Linked DNA regions of Homo sapiens: region 2 is linked to region 1. A link means that fine-mapping ties the variant in region 1 to the expression of a gene that starts in the linked region. Tissue or cell type: whole blood. Region 1 holds a variant in brackets; the other region holds the start of a gene. All regions are shown on one strand. Distances are between the middles of the regions.

The links. PIP is the estimated chance that this variant, and not a neighbour inherited with it, causes the effect.
Region 2: KLHL6 starts here. The variant in region 1 is fine-mapped to the expression of KLHL6 in whole blood (TOPMed, PIP above 0.99).

The regions. Positions count from the first base shown.
Region 1 is chr3:183,495,749-183,498,435 of GRCh38, forward strand. The region is part of intron 4 of KLHL6 (kelch like family member 6); the gene reads right to left. Among named protein-coding and RNA genes, the nearest start is that of SNORA63E, 43 kb to the left of the region's middle. The variant G/A (reference allele first, on the strand shown) is at 1,257.
Region 2 is chr3:183,554,314-183,557,000 of GRCh38, forward strand. It overlaps KLHL6 (kelch like family member 6), which reads right to left and starts at 1,393. Exons shown (of 7, transcript NM_130446.4): 1 at 1,048-1,393. The coding sequence starts at 1,340.

The DNA.
Region 1 (2,687 bases):
AATTTCTAAGAAACTTTTGAAAAAGAAAAGGGAAGAAGGAGGCTTTCCTTATCAAATATTAAAATATACTATAAAGCTATCCTAATACAAACAGTGCAGTACTAGACAAACTGATCAGTTAAAAACAAGAGCACAGAAACGGACTAAAATATATACAGATCATTAAATAAATGTTATTAGAACAATTGGTTATTCATTTGGATAAAGATTAAGTTAGATACTTATTTTACATTACATTTAAAATAAAATTCAAATGTTACTGCTACAGAAGTAACTGGAAAATGTATAGGATATTATGTTAATGACCTTGGGGTTAGGAGGGGTTTTCTAAGCATGACATGAATGTAGAATTGTATAGGACAGAAAACAAGTATATAAAGGTAAAAAACAACCACAGTCTAGGAGAAAATATTTGCAACACAAATAGCAAAGGATATATAAGAAGAGTTCCAAAAAATTAGTAAGAACAAGACAAAAACTGATAGGAAGTGTCAAAGAGTATGAACAGATAATTTTTAAAAATAAATACAATTATCTGGTAAATATATATTTACCATTCTAGTCTATTAAAAATTTAAATGACTAATAATAAAAATCGTTAGCAAGGATATAGAAAATGAGCACTGTCATTCATCACTGATTGAACTGTAAATTGGTACAACTTTTCTGTAGGAAAATTTCACAATATATACAAAATTCTTAATTCACATATGACCACTTCCAGGAAACTTTCCAAGTAGCAGCACAAGTATGAAAAAATATGTGTCTAAGAATGCCTACTGCAATATTTTTTAAGGAGACCAAAAAAAGAAAGCTAAAAAAATTATGGTTTATCCATTTGGTAGACTGCCATATAGCTGGTAAAAAGAATAACAGTAGTGATAATACTGGCCAACATAATTAAGCTCCCACCATGTGCTTTGCATGTAATAACTATATCACTTGATATGTATATCCATTAAACCAACATGTCATCATGTCCAGATGATATTGTTAATTGAAGTACAAGTTTCTGTTGATTTAGCCGTGTATAACAAGCATGCTTTCAGGTATTGCTTGTATCATTAAAAAGTGAACAACAAATTTATGACAAAAGAATAACATGTGGGCTGGGCACAGTGGCTCGCACCTGTAATCCCAGCCCTCTGGGAGGCTGAGGTGGGCGGATCACCTGAGATCAGGAGTTCAAGACTAGCCTGGCCAACATGGTGAAACCCTGTCTCTACTTAAAATACAAAAAAAAAATTGGGCCGGGC[G/A]TGGTGGCTCACGCCTGTAATCCCAGCACTTTGGGAGACCGAAGCGGGCGGATCACTTGAGGTCAGGAGTTTGAGACCAGCCTGTCAATATGGTGAGCCCCCCACCTACCAAAAATACAAAAATTAACCAGGCATGGTGGTGGGCACCTGTAATCCCAGCACTTTGGGAGGCCAAAGCAGGCGGATAACCTGAGGTCAGGAGTTTGAGACCAGCCTGGCCAACATGGTGAAACCCCCTCTCTACCAAAAATACAAAAATTGGCCAGGCATGATGGCATGTGCCTGTAGTCCCAGCTACTCAGGAGGCTGAGGCAGGAGAATTGCTTGAACCTGGGAGGCAGAGGTTGCAGTGAGCCGAGATCTCGCCATTGTACTCCAGCCTGGACAACAGAGTGAGACTCCATCTCAAGAAAAAGAAAAAAAGAATAACACGTGTAGTATATGTGACAAAGACTGACTATGATGACCACACCTGTTGATCCCTCCTGGGCACACAGCTAAACTACATTTCCCAGGTCCCTGCACCCAGAGGGGGTGAGGGGAGGGTAAGGGAGGTCATGTGGCTAGTTTTTGCCAATGGAATGTGAGCAAAATTGATGGCACTTCCAGGCTGAGGCTTTTATGAGCAGGTGTGACTTCTCAACTCCCTTAGCTTTTTTCTTGTCCCTAAATCAAGGCCATGTGTAGGAAGAGGCAGTGTCAGAAGATGGCAGGCCCCTAGGCCCCTGAGTGCCTGAGTGGAGCAGACTGTCCTGCCCCGACCCCTGCATACTATTGTGTTAATTCACTGAGACTTAGGATTTGTAACAGCAGCTAAAATTATTTACCCTGAGCAAATAGAAAACAATTTTTGTAAAAAATGAAAACCCATAGAATTGTGATGGCACAGAGAAACTGCCCTATTTTACTTTACGTGCTCAGTATTGTTTGGATCTTCTACAACAATTAAGGCCGGGCGCAGTGGCTCACGCTTGTAATCCCAGCACTTTGGGAGGCTGAGGCGGGTGGATCACAAGGTCAGGAGTTCAAGACCAGCCTGACCAACACTGTGAAACCCCATCTGCACTAAAAATACAAAAATTAGCCGGATGTGGTGCCACGTGCCTGTAATCCCAGCTACCTGGGAGGCTGAGGCAGGAGAATCATTTGAACCCAGGAGGCAGAGATTGCAGTGAGCCGAGATCACGCCACTGCACTCCAGCCTGGGCAACAGAGCTAGACTCTGTCTCAAAAAAATAAAAAATAAAATAAAATAAACGTCTACAAGATTAAAAGAAAGCTAGAACCTAATCAATGGTATAAATGCATCCAAAGAATGACCTGCCCTTGATTTTGGAGGAAACACGCTCTGGGGTCCAGCTTTCCCCACAAGTTCAGATTCAAGAAAAGCCTCTAAGAAAGGGGAAGGGAAGCTTGTCTCCTTCCTTAGGG
Region 2 (2,687 bases), 59 kb after region 1:
AAAGATATATTGAGCATCTACTTACTATATGCTAGACACTGTGTAGGACCCTTTTCACGCTCTTGTTTAATTATGACAGCCCTGAAAGGTGATCATCATTGTGCTCACCTTACAGATGATGAAACAGACATTCAGAGCACTTTGTGACTTGCCTAAAGTTTCACTGTCAAGAAGGAACCAAGTCTCCTGACTTCAGGCCTTCCCACTATGAGATCACCAGTTTATCGTAACTAGAGGCCTCTCCCATCTAAAGCATCTTTGTAACTGCTTTCCCTTTCCCCACACTGCCTACACATAAAGAAGCCCCTAATTTGTAACAAGTCATTTGACAACTCCAGAAGAGGGGCCACATCCTTTTTCTCTATGTCTGTTGATTAACAAAGACAACATTATGTTTCCAACACCAGTCAGACCAAGGGGGAAAAAAGTCCCCATGACTTCAGTAATTTTCCATCCTTTGGAACAAGGAAATATACACAAAAGGTTTACTATAGAATGTAAGCATTGCTTTTAAATGATGCCAATCTCTCTTTTAATGTGGCCTAAATCCTAAAATTTAAAGTGTGATAAGCCGGGCGCAGCGTCTCACACCTGTAATGCCAGCACTTTGGGAGGCGGAGGCGGGTGGATCACCTGAGGTCGGGAGTTCAAGACCAACCTGACCAACATGGAGAAACCCCATCTCTATTGAAAATACAAAATTATCCGGGTGTTGTGGTGCATGCCTGCAAATCCCAGCTACTCGGGAGGCTGAGGCAGGAGAATCGCTTGAACCCAGGAGGCAGAGGTTGCGGTGAACCGAGATTGCGCCATTGCACTCCAGCCTGGGCAACAAAAGCAAAACTCCGTCTCAAAAATAAATAAATAAATAAATAATAAAATAAAGTGTGATAGTGTCCTTTCTTATATTTTAAGTAGACACACAAGCCTTAATATATATGTAAACCATAAATATCATGGCCAACTGTTCAAGATTGGGCTCTCACACTAACACACCTCTTCCTTGCAACTTGCACCCAATTTGACTCTGGTCCTAGGCATGCTGACCTGAAATAGTTGCTGGCTGCGGCAAGCACCACGCGGTGGCAGGAGAATTCCTGAATGTCCACACACAAGATGACATCTGTCAGAGCGTTTTCCATTCGCAGGGTTTCCAGGCCATTCTGAAGAATTAAGGAGAGTCCCGCGTCGTCAAATTTGACCTTTTCCCCATTTAAGATCTCGACCAAGTCTCCTGTTTTCTGGGAGGGCTCATCTGTAGAAGGTGCCAGGGGCCCTTCCAAACTCTTCTCGACCACATCACCCATGGTCCAGGCGCCCCTTTGTCCTGCCATCAACATCGAGACTGAAGGAGCGCCCAAGTGTCAGGCAGGCCCCATTGCAGGAGCTGAGCGGATTTCCTGTGCAGGGCCCTCCACTTATCACCAGCTGTCACACACACATAACAGGAAGTCTCGCACTTTCTCATCCTGTTACTACAAATGCCAGCAACTTCTATTCTTCTTCTTTCTGTGAGTAATCACAGGGTTAGAAATTACTTAGAATAGGTGTGTGGGAGGGGGTTCTGGAAGAGGAGTGTCCTCTCAGAGTCCACTGTGAGTGCTGTGTGTTTATTTTGGTGCATCTCCCACCTCATATCCGTGAGCAGGAAGCCTCCGGTGGTGGCTGTTACATTTGTACTCCTAATGCTATCAATAACCCAAGTCGTCAATGAGGGGATGGACAGGAGACAGTCTATAATCCTCCTGCTTCACATTTGTACTCCTAGTGGCTCAATAACCCAAGTCGTCAGCGAGGGGATGGACAGGAGACAGTCTATGATCCTCCCACTTCCTCCTCCCAGGAGTCTGAGACCCCACAATGATCCAACAACCGTGCTTTGTAAACCATGGAAACCCCACTTATCCCTGACATTCTCATTTCTGGCGGCACTGCAGATCGTCTATCTTCATCCTCCTCCCTACCCAGGGGAAAACAACGTCATGGCAAACTTTCATGTCTTCCCCCACCAAAAAAAATGTCTATTGTTTCGAATATGCTTTGGGGGCACAGAAGAAATGGTTTCCAAAACTCCATCAACAGCATCTTCTCAGAGGATGAGTCAGGGTGGGTCTACACCGAATTGCCATAGCACGTCTCAGATTAGCCCAACATCTACTGACCGTGCATCTAACGGTGGATCCTGAAGTATTTTCATTACCTCTGCATGTCTCAGTTAAGTAGTAATAACTGTCATTATTAAAATCCCATGATATCCTGGGGAAGTTATAGGAGCGTATCAGTTAGCGTTCTCTCACGCCCAACAGTAATGCTTTACCAGGTTGCTAGGTATTTCTTAGCCCAGCAAACTTGACATCTAAAATTAACCATTACAATTACAGTCATACCCAGCATAATGATATTTCAGTCGATGATGGACTCCAGAGAGACAGAACCAAAAGGATACCTAGAGAGGCATAGCAGAGGGAAATTATTAGGGGAATTGGCTCACGTGATTATGGAGACTGAGAAGTCGCATGACAGACTGCTGAGAGCTCAGTTCAAGTCCAAAGGCCTCAGAACCAGAGAAGATGGTATAACTCTCAGTCCAAAGCCAAAGGCCTGAGAATCCAGGGGGTGGGGAGACTGGTGTAAGTCCTGAAGTCCAAAGGCAGGGGATCCTGGAGTCCTGTTGTTCAAGGCAGGAG